Homo sapiens: one gene and its partners. The protein of the gene in region 3 purifies or fractionates together with the protein of the main gene of each other region. This does not show direct contact. Each region holds a gene or a part of one and is shown on either strand. Other genes may lie near its edges.

Evidence for each region.
Region 1: the proteins of SAMTOR (region 3) and SHMT1 purify together in Homo sapiens (affinity purification with mass spectrometry; 2 studies listed by BioGRID and IntAct, with this or other methods). This does not show direct contact.
Region 2: the proteins of SAMTOR (region 3) and SZT2 purify together in Homo sapiens (co-immunoprecipitation; 3 studies listed by BioGRID and IntAct, with this or other methods). This does not show direct contact.

What each region holds. Positions count from the first base shown.
Region 1 is NC_000017.11:18,353,506-18,357,156, reverse strand, and holds part of SHMT1 (serine hydroxymethyltransferase, cytosolic), read left to right. Parts: intron 1-1,156; 5' UTR 1,157-1,175; coding exon 1,176-1,271; intron 1,272-3,339; coding exon 3,340-3,485; intron 3,486-3,651. UniProt on the Homo sapiens protein: Interconversion of serine and glycine.
Region 2 is NC_000001.11:43,441,751-43,445,401, forward strand, and holds part of SZT2 (KICSTOR complex protein SZT2), read left to right. Parts: coding exon 1-68; intron 69-249; coding exon 250-380; intron 381-517; coding exon 518-618; intron 619-691; coding exon 692-868; intron 869-1,068; coding exon 1,069-1,336; intron 1,337-1,437; coding exon 1,438-1,517; intron 1,518-1,601; coding exon 1,602-1,727; intron 1,728-1,846; coding exon 1,847-2,046; intron 2,047-3,651.
Region 3 is NC_000007.14:112,929,725-112,933,375, reverse strand, and holds part of SAMTOR (S-adenosylmethionine sensor upstream of mTORC1), read left to right. Parts: intron 1-3,651. UniProt on the Homo sapiens protein: S-adenosyl-L-methionine-binding protein that acts as an inhibitor of mTORC1 signaling via interaction with the GATOR1 and KICSTOR complexes.

The DNA of each region.
Region 1 (3,651 bases), on a different chromosome or scaffold from region 3:
GGCATGTGCCACAACGTCCAGCTCATTTTTTGTATTTTTAGTAGAGATGGGGTTTCACCAGGTTGGCCAGGATGGTCTCCAACTCCAGATCTTGTGATCTGCCCACCTCGGCCTCCCAAAGTGCTGGGATTGCAGGCGTGAGCCACCGTGCCCGGCCGGAAAATATTCTTCATGTATAGCAGTGTTGGGTACCGCAGGAGATTTTTTAAAAAGTAGCACTCAGTCCTTACCTTCAAGGAACTTAGTTTAGTTGTGGGAGATAAGCTATATCCATGAGAAGTTTGGCTGAGAGGAGGCGGAGTTGGGCTCCCTGCAGGTGGGGAGGAGGGTCAGTTCTCATTTCTGAGGGAGATGAGCTGACGTCTGCAGTTTGGAAAGGAACCAGAAGTTCCACATGGTGGTTTTGCAATAGAACATGCTCGTGTTTACCAAGCAATTCTGAGGGAAAGGCTAAAAAAAGTGTTAGTTTATCAACTTGATAGAACTAACAGGTTTCGATGAGCTTTGATTCAATATAATGCTGCGGCCAGGCATGGTGGCTCACGCCTGTAATCCCAGCACTTTGGGAGGCCGAGGCAGGCGGATCACTTGAGAGGAGTTCAAGACCAGCCTGACCAACGTGATAAAACTCCATCTCTACGAAAAATACACAAATTAGCCAGGCGTAGTGGCGCACGCCTGTAGTCCCAGCTACTCAGGAGGCTGAGGCAGGAGAATCACTTGAACCCAGGAGGCGGAGGTTGCAGTGAGCCAAGATCACGCCATTGCCTGGGTGACAGAGTGAGAGTCTTGTCTCAAAAAAATAAAAATAAATAGGTGGGGCGCGGTGGCTGACACCTGTAATCCCAGCACTTTGGGAAGCCAACGTGGGCGGATGACAAGGTCAGGAGATTGAGACCATCCTGGCTAACACAGTGAAACCTCGTCTCTACTAAAAATACAAAAAATTAGCCGGGCATGGTGGCATGCGCCTGTAGTCAGAAGATTGAGGCAGGAGAATCTCTTGAACCTGGGAGACGGAGGTTGCAGTGAGCCGAGATCATGCCACTGCACTCTAGCCTGGGCAACAAAGACTACATCTCAAAAATAAATAAAAAATAAATAAAATAAATAAATTTAATTCTGGAAGCTACACATGTTTTTCCCATTTTTTTAGGCAGCTTCGAACCAGTGCAATGACGATGCCAGTCAACGGGGCCCACAAGGATGCTGACCTGTGGTCCTCACATGACAAGATGCTGGCACAACCCCTCAAAGACAGTGATGTTGAGGTGAGATTTTTGGGGTCTTCACAGATTTTTTTATGTTGGAGGCCTTCATTTAATCTTTAGTTCTAATTACAAATTAATTAGGGACAGCCTTGAAATGAGTATTATCCTGCTGGATTTAGAGGTGGTGGCAGACAAAATGGCTACAAATCCTTTGAGGGTAAATTTAAAGATTGCTGGGTTTCTTCAAAGTGTGGAGCACTGTGCAGGGTGCTCTGGAGAAAAGCGAGAAGGGGAGAGATCACTGACAGTTGACCCTTTCCTGACAGTTCACAGGGAATATAGATCTATCTAGACATCTGAAAGCACCTTTATTTTATTTTATTTTACTTGTTTATTTATTTTTTTGAGACAGAGTTTCACTCTTGTTGCCCAGGCTGGAGTGCAATGGCGTGATCTTGGCTCACTGCAACCTCCACCTCCTGGGTTCAAGGGATTCTCCAGCCTCAGCCTCCTGACTAGCTGGGATTGCAGGCACCCACCACCATGCCCGGCTAATTTTTTTTTTTTTTTTTTTTTGAGACAGAGTCTTGCTCTGTCGCCCAGGCTGGAGTGCAGTGGCGTGATCTCAGCTCACTGCAAGTTCCACCTCCTGGGTTCATGCCATTCTCCTGCCTCAGCCTCCTGAGTAGCTGGGACTACAGGTGCCTGCCACCACACCCGGCTAATTTTTTGTATTTTTTAGTAGAGGTGGGGTTTCACCATGTTAGCCAGGATGGTCTCGATCTCCTGACCTCGTGATCCGCCCACCTCAGCCTCCCAAAGTGCTGGGATTACAGGCGTGAGCCACCGCACCCGGCCTTTTTTTTTTTTTTTTTTTTTTTTTTTTTTTTTTTTTGAGATATAGTCTTGCTCTGTTGCTCAGGCTGGAGTGCAGTGACGCGATCTCAGCTCACTGCAAGCTCCATCTCCCGGGTTCACGCCATTCTCCTGCCTTAGCCTCCCGAGTAGCTGGGACTACAGGTGCCAGCCACCACGCCCTGGCTAATTTTTTGTATTATTTTTTTTTTTTTAGTAGAGACGGGATTTCACTGTGTTAGCCAGGATGATCTTGATCTCCTGACCTCGTGATCCACCTGTCTCGGCCTCCCAAAGTGCTGGGATTACAGGCGTGAGCCACCACGCCCGGCCTAAAGCATCTTTTCTTTTAAGGAAGAAGAACAAGGAATAAGGTTCAGGGAGGGAGAAACTTGGTGAAATGTAGGAATAAAAATAACAGGATGGTGGTGTTAAAAATTAGGTGGGACACTTAAAGATAACTTTCTCTTCAATCATTTTGTTTTTCTTTTTCTGAGATGAAGTCTCGCTCTTGTTTCCCAGGCTGGAGTGCGATGGCGCGATCTCGGCTCACTGAATCCTCCACCTCCCAGGTTCAAGCGATTCTCCTGCCTCGGCCCCCCGAGTAGCTGAGATTATAGGCGCCTGCCACCACACCCATCTAAGTTTTGTTTTTTTGTTTGTTTGTTTTTGAGACAGAGTTTTGTTCTTGTCGCCCAGGCTGGAGTGCAATGGCGTGATCTCGGCTCACTGCAACCTCCGCCTCCCGGGTTCAAGTGATTCTCCTGCCTCAGCCTCCCGAGTAGCTGGGATTACAGGCATGTGCCACCATGCCCGGCTAATTTTGTATTTTTTAGTAGAGACGAGGGTTTCTCCATGTTAGTCAGGCTGGTCTCGAACCCCCGACCTCAGGTGATCTGCCCATCTCGGCCTCCCAAAGTGCTGGGATTACAGGCGTGAGCCACCACGCCCAGCCAAGTTTTGTATTTTTAGTAGAGATGGAGTTTCACCATATTGGCCAGGCTGGTCTAGAACTCCTGACCTCAGGTGATCCACCAGCCTCGGCCTCCCAAAGTGCTGGGATTACAGTCGTGAGCCACCGCACCTGGCTATCATTTTGTTTTTGTTAATTCATTGATTAGTGCTTTCTCAGATACTAAAACCTTTGAGGAGGATTCATTCTATTCCATAATGTGAAAGAGTGTCTTTTCTCTTTAGGAGGTTGTAATTTGGATCAGAGCAAAATTTTAAACTAAAATTTCCAAATATCAAGCATCTGTTTTCTTCTCATAAGGTTTACAACATCATTAAGAAGGAGAGTAACCGGCAGAGGGTTGGATTGGAGCTGATTGCCTCGGAGAATTTCGCCAGCCGAGCAGTTTTGGAGGCCCTAGGCTCTTGCTTAAATAACAAATACTCTGAGGGGTACCCGGGCCAGAGGTATGTGAATATCTTCAAAGGCCTGGTTCTGACACAGTCATAGGGAGTACTCAGTCAGCCTAGGACCTAAACAATTTGGAAATTTCAGAAAACAATAAGCTTCCCAGCTGTAGGATTTCTGTTCCACGCCTGCTCTCTGACAGAACTCTTTTATTCCCAGCATGTG
Region 2 (3,651 bases), on a different chromosome or scaffold from region 3:
TCTGAGTTCACCGCACTGGTCACCTCAATGGCTGGAGACACCAGTGTCCGCATCTTTGAGCAGCATTTGTGAGTGTAGATCCTATAGAATTGAAGGGAACTCCCCTAGACTTCCTAAAAGCTGGGCCTACAGGAAGCCAAACCTGAGGAAGCTGAGCTAGGAGAGGTGGAAACAAGGCCCAGGGAGGTGAAGGCTAGGCCAGGGAGTGGTGTCATGGATGGCCTTTCTGTCTGTCCTCCCTTTCAATAGGGGTTCAGAGCCAGAGATCTTCGGCCCTTGTTCCCCTGGGCAACTGGGCCCCTCTCCCCGCCCTGCAGCTGAGCGGCATCTGCTGCTTCTGGGAAGGAACTTCTTGCAGTGGAGGAGACCAACACAGCAGGGTGAGGGCATGGCCCGGGGGGGCGGGGGGCGGGTAGGCTAAGAGTAACTGGTGGGGTCTCCAACCTTGCAGAGGGGAGGGTGGGATCAAGGGGGATCTGTTCCCAGGCCCCTATTGTGCCCCTCCCCCACCCTGTAGCTGCCAAAGCCATGCAGCGCTTCGAGCCAGGAGGTGATGGGAGCTCAGGGCGAAATGCTCCCCGGCAGAGGCTCTTGCTACTAGAGGTTGTGGACAAGAAGGTAAATATGGGGCCAGGGACTGGGTGGGAAGAGGGGTTCCGTGATCTCACTGACCCTGACCCCCGACCTCCAGCTACAGCTGCTGACCTACAACTGGGCTCCAGACCTGGGGGCAGCATTGGGCCGAGCGCTGGTTCGCCTGGTGCAGTGGCAGAATGCACGAGCCCATCTCATCTTCTGCCTACTCAGCCAGAAGCTTGGCCTCTTCCATCATTATGGCCAGTTGGACTTCCCCGTGCGAGATGAAAAGGTGCCTGCTGCTCTGGTTCTTCCTATAGTTTTGGCTACTGAGGGGTCAGTTAAAGGAAAAACCAGCTCAGAAGCCAGAAAGATGGGACAGACTGAGGGCAGAGGTAGTGGGGAGGGAGAGTCTGAGAGAGGAAGCCCTGGGATGAGAGAGAGGGTCCGAGGGCAAAGGCTATGAACCCATTGCAATGCTCCATCTCTCAGGAGCCAAACCCATTCCTGCTGCCGACCATGGAAGTGGAGACCCTCATCCGGAGTGCAAGTCCCCCGCTGAGCCGTGAGCAGGGCCGACTGAGTGGGTCCTCTCGTGGTGGGGGTCCTCTTCCCCTGGACACATTCCCCTTTGACGAGGCCCTAAGGGATATCACGGCTGCCCGCCCCAGCTCCGTACTTGGTCCTGTGCCCAGACCTCCTGATCCTGTCACCTACCATGGACAACAGTTCCTAGAGATCAAGATGGCAGAGCGCAGAGGTGAGGGTACTGGGCCAGGCAGCAGGGACAGGAAATCTGTGGAGTCTGGGAGGAAGGGAGTGACAATGCCTGGGGCTACTACTAATGCCCTCAACCCTCAGAGCTGGAGCGCCAGATGAAGATGGAAAACCTGTTTGTAACCTGGCAGCAGCGTTCTACCCCAGCCACCATGCCCATCAGTGTGAGTGACCCCAGCTTGCATCTTCCTTGAGTATCTGTGATCCTGCCCCGTCACTGCTCCATGCTCACTGCCCTGTTTCCCCAGGCTGGAGAGCTGGAGACCCTGAAGCAGTCATCCCGCCTGGTGCATTACTGTGCAACAGCCATGCTCTTCGACCCAGCTGCCTGGCTGCATGGGCCCCCAGAGACCTCTGGACCCCCTGACGGGCAGGTAAGGCTGACTCCCAGACTTCTAGCAGACCTTTGCTTACCCCACAGTGACCCCCCTCCTCCATCCCCAGCAGGATGGTTGACAGTGGGGAGAGTCTTCCTTGATCTTTACTCTCATAGCGGCGCCATCGCCCTGAGTCAGGGTCTGGGAGCCGAGAGGCCCCCACAAGCTGTGAATCCTTGGATGTGTCGCCCCCGGGAGCCCGTGAGGAGCCTTGGCTGAAGGAGCTGAGCTTGGCTTTCCTGCAGCAATATGTGCAGTATCTGCAGAGCATAGGTTTTGTGCTGGTACCACTGCGGCCCCCCTCACCCGCCCGCAGGTGAGCCCGTCCCTGTTTTCCCTTCTGTCTTCTCCTCCTGCACTGCAAGTGAGGCCCCACAGGCCCTTCCTCTCTTTACAAGGTCCTATGTTGACAATTTGGGCTGGGCCTGTGCATGTTTATCCCACCAGGCTTGCACTCATGTGAGGGTCTCAGATACTTTCACACAGCCCTCATGCGTGTCCTGCAGACCTTGTATGCTTTATGGAACTCATGATGACACTCATACAAAACTGTGTCCATTTTCACAAAGCTCATGCCCACACACATCTTGTACACTTACACACTTGCATACATCCCCACATGTGAATTTTTTTGGAGATGGAATCTCACTGTGTCGCCTAGGCTGGAGTGCAGTGGCGCGATCTCGGCTCACTGCAACCTCCACCTCCTGGGTTCGAGCAATTCTTGTGCCTCAGTCTCCCAAGTAGCTGGGATTACAGGTGCACGCCACCCTGCTTGGCTAATTTTTTGTATTTTAGTAGAGATGGGGTATCACCATGTTGCCTAGACTGGTCTTGAACTCCTCAACTCAGGTAGTCCGCCCACCTCAGCCTCCCAAAGTGCTAGGATTATAGGTGTGAGCCATCACGCCCGGCCTGCACATGTGAATCTTGTACATGCTCCTAAGCCTCTGGATCTAGGACTTAATGATTCCTGTCCTTATCATCCCACTGACCTCTCCTGAGATTTGATGTAGTTCTCGGCCCAGGGAAGTCCTTTTCTCACCAAGGACCTCTGTGCTAGGCCTACTTGCATCACTGTCCTTGGCCTGTTCTTGGTCATGTTCACCCACTGGCCAGTACTGACAGGTCTGAGTCTTGGGAAGTAGGCAGCCCGTCTGTTGCCACCTCCATCTCCCCTGAGCTCAGGGACAACTCTGCAGCCACCTTTTCATCCACTGTCAAATCTCAGATTCCCGTGTTTGTGGCCCCTGCTCTATGTTCCTCTCCAGATTCTGTGTTCTCTGCCCTTTCCCAGTGGCTGTATGCGAAAAATGAGCTGTTCACCTTACACATAGCTACTTTCGTGTCTCCAGATTTGTGAGTTTATCAAGGCATGTTCTCCCTCCTCTCTGTTTTCAGTTAGAACCTTTTCAAGCCAGTAGTCCAGAAATGCCAGTTCCAACTCTCTCATGTTTCTGTGACCAGCTCCCCACTCCCCAGGTTTCCCTCTCTTCCAGGCATTAGGAAGAGAAGGCGTGCCTGCCCCTCCTGTGATCCCATCTCAGAGGCCAGGCTGGCCCCTCCTACCCTGGGGAGGAGCTGCCCAGCTTGCTATCTTGACAGCCAGTTCCCAGCTCTAGGAGCTTCTCTAAAGGACTTTAGTTTGCACACTTGCCATAAGTTATGCTCTTTCCCCCAAATCTGAATTCCTTTAGACACTGGGTTAAAAAAAAAAATGTTTCTACAGCAAAATTTAAAGCCAGGTCTTCCCTTCCCACCAATCTTTAACAATCACCAATCACTAAGTCTTGTCCCAGTTTCCTTGAGGTTTAAATGGGACATTTTTTCCACCAGAGGTTTTGACCCCCAGCAAGAATTCTGGCAGTTTATAGCCCCTTGGCGTGAGTGGGTCCCCCCAACCCCTTCTGTTCTGTCCCTT
Region 3 (3,651 bases):
TATCTTTTGGTAGCCATTTCTATAGTGTCTAAATAAGTCAGGCACATTTGTCACATAGTTCCTATTATAATCATATCTTCTTCAGTATTTTTGTTAATTTCCTAGAGCAATCTCATACATTGTTCACATTTGACGATTAAGTGGAGACTTTGCTGTTTTATCATACAGTACTTTTGGAGCTCCTGTTTTTACTAGTCCTTGCTAATTAGCAAAAGCAGCAGGATCCCTACCCTCCTTAAGTAACAAAAATAATAGAGATGTTAACCGTAGCTATTCTGTCTTTATGTCTTCAGGGTAGCATTAAGGATTGGATGGCTCCTGGGCATTATCCCTGCCCCTCTTCCTTCCCCCACCAATTCAAGTAAAATTTTCTAAAATGTTCCTCTTTAAATCAGAAGTACTGTTGTACTGGAAGTTTAGCAGCATAATGTTTTTAACAACTTTAAATCTAGATTATTAAGGATTATGGTTTAGAGTCCGATCTTCAGGCCTCTTTTGAAATGACCTCTTCGTGGTTGGTCTTTTAGGCCAGTTTATTGTAATGTAAACTCTTGAAACAAAGATCTGGGTTTTTATTAATCATCACAAACCCCATCCCCACAAACACAGTTGTGTACAGCACCTAGCACAGAATCCTACATAAGTAAGTGCCCCTACCTAAGTGCCCCTCTTACCTTGTGCTTCCATAGCATGATTGTGCCTACCTTTATGGTATTTATAACTTACCAGTTCATTTGTCTGTTTTATCTACTAAACTTAGTTTCTTGAGTAAAACTCTGCCTTTTATCTCTGTAGCCTTAGTACATAGCACCAGGCCTTGTAGATTTAAGGCACACGCACAGAAGAAGCTAATGTAAATATTTCCAGATAGTTGAGTTTTATCTTTTTATATTCATAACTTTAAAATTTTAACTTGTGGATACCCATGTTTTCTAATTTATGCTCATGTCTTCTTAAATTGAGTATATTAGATTAATTTTACCCTTTTTTAAATGGTCCAAGTTATTCTGAATAGCATTCTATTTTTCTATAAATATAATGGTAAATATATCCTTACACTCATTATGGTATCTTTATTTGTTCTCATAAGGATGTTGTAGTGGGTATAATGTATGTCTCTCTGTATGTTGGTAATAAAAATGGTAATAGTGAGCTGGGTACGGTGGCTCATGCCTGTAATCCCAGCACTTTGGGAGGCCGAGGCGGGTGGATCACGAGGTCAAGAGATAGAGACCATCCTGGTTAACTTGGTGAAACCCTGTCTCTACTAAAAATACAAAAAATTAGCCGGGTGTGGTGGCATGTGCCTGTAGTCCCAGCTACTTGTGAGGCTGAGGTAGGAAAATCACTTGAACCTGGATGGCGGAGGTTGCAGTGAGCCGAGATTGCACCACTGCACTCCAGCCTGGGTGACAGAACGAGACTCCATCCCGAAAAAAGAAAAAAAAAAAAAAAGTAATAGTTTTGTGTATTTGTTTATATTTACAGATAAAAATTTTTCAACCCCAATATATCAGTCTCTTAAATTTGAAGTGAAATTTATACTAGTTACAAAATCTAACATCTGACAACCACTAAACTATACTGACCTATTGTGCTTTAAGTGTAGATACACTAATACCCATTGCTGTGTTTATTTTAGAATAGGTGGTTAATCTTCATGCATTTAGAGCAGCATGTGAGTATCCATTTCCATTTATATAGAAATTAGGGTAAGACTTTTTAATTGAACATATGAAAATTAAGTTCCAAAAGGCTGTTCATAAATCCTTTTGTTTGAAAGTTGAAAATTAAACTAAGCAAGTGCTCTGTGTGGTCATAGACCCACCTGTGAAGTTCACTTTCACAAGGGAATAACATGTTGGTGACATTGGTTATGATTTTTCTTGATTTCTTTCCATCTGCCTTATAGGATGTGTTCACAGACTTGCATTTTGGAGTAAGTATTTTTATCGTTGATATGTTTATAATAAAAGGCTGTTCCAAGAACAGAAGATACACCGTGAGCCAGTGTTTGTAGATATTAAGTTTAATCCATGCATTGATTTGTTTTGTTGTGTTTTTTTTTTTGTTAATTAAATTGGACTCTTAAGGTTGTCCCAACCCCCTGCTCTCTATATTATTTTGCCAGGCTTTTAAGCTCACAACCTTGCTATACACCATTGGTTTTAAGCCATAGCTACACGTTGGATTCATCCGGGGAGTGTTAAACTAAATGACCAGTTGCCACTCCAGACCAGTTAAATGAAACTTCTGGGTGATTCCAATGTGCAGCCAGAATTGGCAGCCAGAGTTGAGAACCACTGCCAGAAATCTAACAAATAATGCAGTTGCAGAGACTAAATAACTGCATTTGACTGACAAAAGACCATTTGTTTGTGGTTAGTAGAGTCTGTGTACTTTCCTCTGTTGCAAAGCTTTGCTCATATCCATGAAAGTTCATGAATTAAAAACTTATGAAGAGAAGCAAAGTTTGTGGTTAGGAGCATGACTTTAGCTTTTGACTACCAGGTTTGTTGTGTAACCTTGGAAAAGTTTACTTAATCGCTCTACTTCAGTTTCCTCATCTATAAAGTAAAATATCTGCCTCAATGGATTGGTATTATAATTAAATGAGTTAATATTTGAAAAGCACTTAAAACAACATTTGGCATATAGGAAACACACTAAGCTTGTAAAATACAGAAATTTAAAAATAACAGCTCTTTTATCTGTAGCTATACTGCTTCAATGCATTTAAGGACTATGACATTAAAGACTGGATGGCTCCTGGAATTTTTACCTAGACTGTTCTGTAGTCTTCTCAGTATTAAAATGACTTTTTCTTTTTCTTCTTTTTTTTTTTTTTGCCCCTTTTGCTGTTTGTGTTTCTAAGTTTTTATATGAAAAGTCCAACCTTTTTAGCATGTCAGAATATTGGTGGTGTTTTCTTCCCACATTAGAGAAATGACTATTCATAACATGTTGGCTATAAGATGCAGGTTTTCAAACTTTTTGTTTTCTGGTTACTTTTTGGCTCTTAATTACCAAACACCTTGGATGTTTTTTATCCCACTTTTAGATGTGTCACTGTATCAGGTGCTCAAGAGCTGAGAAGACTGGTCGTTGTATGGCTTAACTATGTAAGACAATCTGAATTCTGAACATTTTGTTTTAATGCCTTGAAATGGTAGCTGAACTTGTTTGCACTTAGTCATGAGTTTCTTTACTTACCTTGTGTTAGAGAAAATGACCATTAAAGGTACTTTGAACTTGAATTTGGTAGTCTTGTCATCTACAGATAAGGCATCTTAGGGCCCGTATTTGGCAATATGCCTAAGTCAGAATCAAATAAATTGTTCTGAATTTCTAAAAGTTTAAGACTTTTGATACTCATGTATTTTTTTGCTTTTTTAGAGAATTTGATGGCCCTCAAATTTAATGAAATATAATCTTAATTTTGTAACATATACCATGCTTGTGGCACATCATTTTTAAAAATTAAATTTATTGAGATATGATTCATGTACAGTAAATTGTGTCTTTTTAAAGTATATAATTCCGTAAGTTTTGACAATGCATGCATCTCTGTAAAACCATTACCACAATAAGGCGTAGAACATTTTCATCACTGCCAAAATTTTCTCATACTTCTTTGCAGTCGGTCTCTCT